Linked DNA regions of Homo sapiens: region 2 is linked to region 1. Evidence: fine-mapped expression QTL. A gene starts in region 1. The other region holds a variant in brackets. All regions are shown on one strand. Distances are between the middles of the regions.

Evidence for each region. PIP is the estimated chance that this variant, and not a neighbour inherited with it, causes the effect.
Region 2: its variant is fine-mapped to the expression of LRRC1 in lymphoblastoid cells (GTEx, PIP 0.94).

What each region holds. Positions count from the first base shown.
Region 1 is chr6:53,793,045-53,797,497 of GRCh38, forward strand. LRRC1 (leucine rich repeat containing 1) reads left to right here and starts at 1,961. Exons shown (of 14, transcript NM_018214.5): 1 at 1,961-2,371. The coding sequence starts at 2,213. LOC124901333 (a long non-coding RNA gene) reads right to left here and starts at 631. Exons shown (of 5, transcript XR_007059619.1): 1 at 497-631; 2 at 239-305. RefSeq lists silencers at 652-781, 1,827-2,066 and an enhancer at 2,033-2,745.
Region 2 is chr6:53,832,646-53,836,645 of GRCh38, forward strand. All of the region lies in intron 1 of LRRC1 (leucine rich repeat containing 1), which reads left to right. Among named protein-coding and RNA genes, the nearest start is that of LRRC1, 40 kb to the left of the region's middle. The variant G/A (reference allele first, on the strand shown) is at 2,128.

The DNA of each region.
Region 1 (4,453 bases):
GATACAAAAATAATAACACAGAGAAGCTGAAGCATCATGGAGAGGCACACAAGGAATGCTTATTGAGGTCTGAATTTTTAAAAGACTGGACACGTCTTTAAAATACATTTGGTGTTCGTTAAAATAATCTAGTGTGATAACCTCTGGAAATCACATTATTTTAAATGGAGGGAACTAGCCTTCTTTAATTTTTTTTTTAAAAAGCAGTTGGAAAACTTGAAGACAGGGACTTACTTACCTTTCCACATGTCTCTGTCAGGAACCAGTTTTCTAGGAAGGGTGGCAGAAATGAGCTTCATATGTTTCTGGAATGCAAGAATGTAGAAAGGGGGGTGGAGGTTCAAAGTCCAGGTAGCCCTCTGTGAGAACGCAGGAATCAAATCAGGACAAACAAAAGAAGGGTGAAGTGGGTAGGGCAACGGAGTTTCGGGATTGACTGGAATGAGAGTTAAGGTGATAATGCTGGGGTGGAAATGAAAGTCAGACCCCTCCTTACGGACTGGGAAGAAAGGAGCCCTCCTAGTAAAGTTGAAAAGACCAAGTGTCCTCTTCTCCATTTCACCGGGGAAACGCTCCTGTGCCTAGTCGTAAGGTACAGGAGAGTCTATGGAGCCCATGGAGAGTCTAATGCAAAAACTAGTTTCCGACCAAACTTTGCCTTGGCCACTGAGCATGCTCAGCTTTGTCTTCTATAGAAAAGTGAACTCCGTGGCTCCAGATTTTAGCTATAGCAGCTGGAGGGCGGGAGTGAGTGTGGGAGAGCCAGCGTGGCAGCGGCCGCAGGTGGAAACCTGGAGTTTGAGTATGCTTGAAAGGGAAAGTGTGGAACGAAGGGGCGGCCGGGTGGGGAATCAGAGAAGCCCCCAAGGAAATGATTCATCATTGTGATTGACCTTGACTTTAGCAACCCTTCATTAAAGGAGAAAATTTGGTTATTCGGAGATGGGGACTGTGTTGCAAACAGTTACAGGCAAAGAGGGGCAGTTCAGGATTCCGGCCGTGGTCCGCAGGAATGAGTCGGGGCGAGGGAATGGTTGTTATAACCCAATAGTGAGCCTCCCCGGTCATCCGGGCTGGACGGGACTGGGGTTGTAGCAGAAAAGCAGGAGCTGTATGGAGGATGCTCACCTGGCAGCCTCGATCTGCCCCTCTTCCCTCGCTCCTCCCTCCGCACCAGCCACAGCTAGTTGTCAGGGGCCAACATCTGGGCCGGGCTGGAACTGGCTCAGAAACTCGCGTTTGCCTGCTTATTTCTGCAGCTGGGCTCCTTGCCAGGTGCAACCACATCTATGAGAATCTCGCAGACTCTCAGACTCCTATGCCTTTGCTGGTACAGGGAGGAGGATTTACTATCACTCACTGCATAAACCATGATCACCAGAGATGTGCTCCCAAGTTACAAAGCCTGCAGGCGGTGCCCGAGGACCAGAGGGCCGGGCGCGGCCAGCTCACACTTCTGGGGCAGCCGTGAGCAGCGGGCACACGGGCAGCCACGAAAGCAGCAGCGAGGGTGGTGCAAACACCTCAAAACTACACCGAATCCAGTAGCGCCTGGCGCCCCCGGCGCGCAAGGTACGCTTTGGGGCGGTCCTGTGTGACCCCGGAAGAGAAAGTTGTTTTGGGGAAGGGGAGCAAGGAGAGGAGTGCGAGTTAAATAAAACTAAATATCAAAGTTGTTCTGCTCTGCTCAGGCCGCCTCTACTCCGCCTCATCTTTGTCCCAAGTCCTTTCACAGTCTGCCTTCCTCAAACGGCCCGATGCGCCCCCGTCTTTGCCGGAGTAAGCAGACCGCCAGCAGCCGGCCCGCAGGTCAGTCGACCCTCTCTGGATGCAGGTCGCCGGGAAAACCCGGAGCGGAGCATCCCTCGGGCCGGGAAACGCCCTCGGCGCGCACCCACTGGCGCGCATGCTCAGTCCGCGCGGCGGCTGCGAGTAGGAAGCTCCGCGCGGCGGCGGGGGCGGCGACGGCGACTGGCGGGTGGGAGTGGAGGCACCGGCTGGCGGGCGGGGGTACAGGGACGGGGCAGGGGCTCCCGCTCCAGGTTCCTTGAAGCACTTCCGACCGCGAAGCCCGGCGCGAGAAGCGAGCTAACCCAAGAGCCAACAACGAGCGCGGAGAGGGCAGCGGACTGAGCGGAGCCGCCGGCCAGAGCGGGCTCGGAGCCCGGGTCTCCGCCGCTCGGGACCCGGCTAGGCGGCGGCGGGGGCGGCGATGTTCCACTGCATCCCCCTGTGGCGGTGCAACCGTCATGTGGAGAGCATCGACAAGCGCCACTGCTCGCTGGTCTACGTCCCCGAGGAGATCTACCGCTATGCCCGGAGCCTGGAGGAGCTGCTGCTGGACGCCAACCAGCTCCGCGAGCTGCCCGAGGTAAGGGTCCGGCCTCACCTGAGCGCTCTGCCCGCTCGTCTGCTGTCCCTTCCGCTCCCATCCTCTCTCGTCCCCTCTTCCATCTCCGGGTCCGGCGTGAAGGAACCTTCCCTCTTTTATGCATTCACCTGCTTCTTTCTCCCCCTGTCTCTTTACTTCCATCCTTTCCCAGTAAAAGTTCCTTTTCATTTTATTCAAAGTGACCGGATATTTTGCGCGTAGTCACTGGGGCTCGTGCTATTGGAGAAGCGTTCTGGACTGTTAAGTAACTTAGATCCATGCTAGGTACTGACACCTGGCACTTGTGCCCGGTCAGGTGAGAAGCCGGGTGATTCGGGCTGTTTCCATCTGGAAGCTACAGAGCACTGCATCCTCCCCCCCTCCACTCCCCGGGGTCGTTCCCCCACCAAGGGCCGGGCGCGCCTCTCCTTTAGTCAAGGCATGTCCCGGAGGACCTTGTGACCTGGGCAGCGCTCAAGCGGGCCGCACTATCTCGGCATCTTGGGAGGAATGAGGAATGTGCTCCGTGCTTTATCGCGGGTGGGCTTGGCCGGCTGGCCTGCGGTGGCTGCGGGGGTGGACGCGAGATGGGCGCAGGGGAGAGCTGGGCCTGGAGCGCTAGGGGCAGGTGCCCAGATGCCGGCCGCCCGGGCCTTGCCTACGTGGACCTGTTGCGTGGTGGGAGCTGCGGTGAACGTCAGCGGAGGCTCTGCCCGCGGGCCAGCCTTGCAGCCGCCTTTCCCGGAGCGGGCACAGTCGTCCTGCTGACTTTCTCTCCTTGCAGTGATGCGTTATCTCTTCAGAGTTGTTTATGTAAATTGATCACTCCATTGCCGCCGAACTTGTCAAGCGACATGTGCTGATGGTGCTTTGACCGAGAGTAGGGGTACAGCGAACTTCTTTCAAGCTTGCCTCGGGAACTTAGCTAGAGTAACCCCTCGGGGAAGGTGTCTCAAACCCAGGTGTGTGCAGGAAGTCGGTGTGCAATAATCCAAAGGTGTGCAGGAAGTAGGGAGACTGCTGGCAGTCGGGGATTGGACCTGTTTTAGGCCTGAGCTTTGGAACGCAAACTTCTTGTTGCCCTTTAGTTAACACAAGCCAAATCATTGTCACAGAAACACTAGTCAAGTGTTCTGACTTGTTAGAATGACCTGATACGTTCTCCAGCGCTGATGGAGCATTTAAACAATAAGAACTGTGTGTTTTTCTCAATATTTTAAGTGGTGGTGTTCTTCTTGGATTAACTTTCCTGGGTTCATGTGGAATTGATTGGATGTTTGCTCTGTGTAATCATGGAGATTATCCTCACTAGGACCTTTGCAAAGCCCCCCAGGCTTTATTTAGCTTAGAAGCAGCAAAGCCATCAAGTTCCCTCAGGCGTTTATTATTTCGCAGGCATTTTCAAACACATGATTTTTTTCTGGCCTTTTACGTCCTTGAAGATTTCTTACCAGTCGTCAGCTCCCTCACTGCTTTAAGTTGTGTAATTTTAGGCAGTGATATCACCAGGAATATAGAATATGTAATTTAATAGTTTTCAGGGGCTTCAGGATGACATTATTGAAGATGGAGTGAAAAGTTATTCACTAGAAATGATTCATTGCTCTTTGTGGTATTTGTTTTTTTGTTTTCTTTTGTAGAACTGGAAGATTTCCTTTGACTGGATTGGCTTTTCACTCCCTTCTGCAGGGTTTGTGGGTTTTCCTGTAATGTTGGGGAATTCAGCTTGGCATGGGAAATTACATAATTTCCCATGCCAAGCCGAAATGTCAGGTCTTTCTGTGATCCTAAATGGAAACTTGTCAGAATCTCAAAATATAGTCTGATGGCACTCTGTAAATATGGTAAATAAACAAGCTTTTCAAAGGTTACAGGTGATCTTGCTAATGGATTATTATTGCTCTAACAGCTGTTAAATTAGTATTAAAGTTTTTAGGTTGTGTAAAATCTACTTCTCCCTGACTTATTGTGTGTCTTGGTGCCTGGGTGTGTACATGCCAGACATGAGAACCACCTTGCAAACATAGATATCTGTTCCATCCCTTCCATTCTTTCCTTGGGCTATCTGTTGTCTCACCTCTG
Region 2 (4,000 bases), 39 kb after region 1:
TTCAAGTTTTACTTGATGATACATTTGGTTAAAATGTGCAGGAAAAACAACCCTTTCTAGATGAGTAGAATCTTTGATTTTCTGTCGTACAAAACATCAATACCAAGAAGTTGAATGATCCTCTGTCATCTGGCCTAAGTTCCTTTTTTTCTCAGCAGATTTACCTTTTTAAAACAGTTTTTCTCCCTAAAATTTCTATTACATTTTTTAATAAAATAGGACTTATACTGTACATATATACAATTTTACATTTCTTTTTTCCCTTAACCCTAAAACATAGTGTTTATTATATTATTAAATATTCTCCAGAAACATGATTTTTAATGGCCATATAATAGTTCATTGTATGCATTTGCCATCCTGTGTTTAATCATTCCCCTATTGTTAGTTTCAGTTCGATATCTTTTTTCTCTCCTCATAGTTGATCTTTCCCTCTGAGGTACCAACCCTGCTTGGTCCAGCTCTCATCAGTTCTCCATCTGCACCATCAGTCTGGTCCTCCCATGTCAACAGCTCATCCCTTCAGTCAAGTTACCAGTAAAGTAATGCTGTCCTGATCCATTTTGCTTTTAGTAAAAGCTTCTTTTCTCCAAGTGATTGCAGTTGCCACTACCAGTCTGATCCACCCTTCTGATCATAGCACAATACAGAAAACATGCCTGGTTTCTTGGTTTTCAAAGTGATTCACCCTTGAGCTATTTTAATTATGGGGGGCAACCTTGGGGCATTTATATCTTTGTTTAGGATCATTAATGGTGACAGCTTAATAATGCATGAAAGCACCTTGGAAACATTAAAATATACCAGCAAATGAGAGGATAAAGGTATTAGGGGAGGCCAGAAAAATTAGAAAGATAAATATTTTGAACAAAATAAATGTAAGCATCTTTATTATAAATGCTCAAGCACACACATGCTAACACTCAGTGGAAACTAATTTGCTTCTCTGAAATTTGGTCATGCAAGGAAAGGAGTCAGCACTCTTTCCTTTGTTGCATAAAGAAAAGGGTACTTGTGCCTCTGAAACATGAACCTATTAAAAATTATATTTTAGAGCAGGAGAGGCCTTTTTTCCCCCTGTGATCTCTTTCATGTATTTGTCTTCTGGGCAAATAGATGGGCAGGGAGAAATATCTCTTCAGATTATAGAATAAATGGTTAGTTTTATTTAGAGATTGAACCCTTTATCTTATTTCATATTTATTGTCTATCACCTGGCCTATTAGTACATGAATATAAACTATTTTGTCAATCAGTATTTCAAATTCTTAAGTATTTGTGATTCTCTGGAATTCCATTCTGTGTCTATGAAAATTGTTCAGCATTAGTAAAATTCTAATTGCCAGTTGAACAGTGTCATCCTTTTGAGTTTCTCCAGGACTGTCCTGCTGCTCTGTGATACCTCCCCTATTGCCTTCAGAAACTAGACCTAGCTGAGCCTTTTTTCTTTGTATGCCCTTTTGCTGTATCGTATTATAAACTTGTATCAAATTTTGTCTTCTGCTTTCCCTGTTTCTTTCAGCCTTCCCTTGCCCAAGGCTTTATCGGGATGTTTGTTATATCTCTGTGCCCCTGATCCTCTAGAAGTTGATTCATTCTTATCTGTCTAGATTTCTTGCATGTCTACTCTCTCTGTCTGGATTGGTTTGGCAGCAACCCCACTTATGTGCTCTCACATGTAGGTTTCATTAGCATGCTCTTTTCTTCCGCTCGCAACTTGTCAATCAAGATGGAATCTGACAGCATTGGTAATTTTAGTAGTTATTTCTTTCCTAGCTTACCCTCCCGCCTCCACCTCCAGCATGACTTAGTTTTGGTTAGCTGATTAGAATGTAGTTTCACACCAGTGTTTTTTGTTTAGCAGGTAGTTATCTGAGGATTTCTACTGTGTGATCCTCCAGCATGGCTCTGTTTGGGAATTTTTCCTAAAGAATATTATTAACTGGTCTGCAGTATCAGGGAAGCCAGTAAAGTTGCTGGTCTTCAGTTTCCTTATCTGTTAACTAGAGATAAAAAAAACTCTACCTCACTTGGTTATAGAGATTCAGTTAAATAAAAGTATCTGTGCCTATAATACCAGCACTTTGGGAGGCCGAGGCAGGCGGATCACGAGGTCAGGAGATCGAG[G/A]CCATCCTGGCTAACATGGTGAAACCCCATCTCTACTAAACATACAAAAAATGGTGGCACACACCGGTAGTCCCAGCTACTCGGGACGCTGAGGCAGGAGAATGGTGTGAACCCGGGAGGCGGAGGTTGCAGTGAGCCGAGATCATGCCACTGCACTCCAGCCTGGGCGACAGAGCGAGACTCCGTCTCAAAAAATAATAATAATAAAAATAAATAAATAAAAGTATCTGTGTATCCCCAGCCCAGTCTTTTCTTACTAATAGGAATTCCTTCTTCATTAATGTCTACCAATTCTGTGCATTTTTGACATCTTTATTAAGATATAATTCACATACCATACAATTCACCCAAGTGCGCAATTCTCTGGTTTTTAATAAAGTCACAGTTGTGCAACCATTACCGCAATCAATTTTAGAATATTTTCATCACCCAAAAGAAACCCCATATCCTTTAGCCATCGTTTTCCATTTCCTAGGCAACTGCTAATCTACTTTCTGTAATTTTATGCATTTTAACTTCATGCTTAATGTTATATTGTGTGCTAACAGGATTTTCATTTTTCTTTTGGCACAGGGAAGGTATTTTGAAATGCAATTCTATAATTTTTAGAGCTACAAAGAGCCCTTTATCATTTAATGCTATTTTTTCACAAGAAAACAAGAGGACCAGAGAAGTTAAGTGATTCACCCAGAGATATTCCTATTCCACACCTCTACCAAACACACTGACAAAAAGTGTCTCATTCACGCTTATTTAACTAATACTTATTTATGAGTGTTTGCTAAAACCCTTTCAAACTCAAATTCTGGATGTGGGATATGATTGTTTGAATTATCTGCTTTAACCAAACTAGTTCTTTCAGTATTCTGTGACTATTTCTTGGCCTTTTCTTTTTGTCTATATCCTTTTCATATATAAAGAATCTTAGCCAAAGTTTATTCAGTGTATTATTTTCTCTTCTGATTTGCTTTAGAAAAGTCATTACTCTATAATCAACCATAGAATTTTGTACATAATCTACCCAGTTTTCATGTGTGTTCTGTGGCATATCTGAGGTTTCTACCTCATTTAATCTACCAATTTTTTCCCACCCTCTCCCTCTTTTTAACATGATTTTTGCCATTCCTTCCATCTATAAATGAAGATGATTTCTCTACTCCCTTAAATATGGGCCGACTTTGTGACTTGCTTTGACCAATTTCCATTGGCAGAAAGGACAACATCAGGCAAATTTCAAGCTTAGGCCCCAAGAGTCCTTGCAGCTTTTGCCGTTGCCCTTTTTGAATGCTCTCTGGGAGCTTCATATAAGAAAGCCACTCTAGCTTAAGGGAGGAGGACAGAGGCCTTGTGGAGCACAGAGGAGCTCTAGCTGGCAGCTGGCACTAACTGCTAGACATAGCAGTGAGGCCAGCATGGATCTTCCAGCCCTTCTGACACTAGCCAAATGTAGATGCATGAGTCCAGATGAGAGCAGCAGCGGAATTACCTAACCAACGCACAGAAACGTGAGGAATAAAAATCCATGTAGTTTTGAGCCACCAAATTTGGGATGGTTTGTTATTCAGTAAAAGCTAACTTATATGCGTAGGTATCAGTATTGCGGCAACCTTGAGATGATTAAAGAGTATAATCCATGTAAAGTGTTTGGCTTACTGCCAAACATATAGTGTCCCTCAGTAGAGGTTAACTGCTGTATTATTATCATTATCATTGTTGTTTTGGTTATAATGGTCGCTTCTCCCTCCTCCTCTAGATCTAATGCCATTGCTCTTTAATATTATTAACTTTGATGAATTAAATAATTGGATGTCCTTAGTGGTAATTGGTATTTTCCTTCCTAATTAGTAAGTAGTCTAAAACTTTAAAAAGTTTT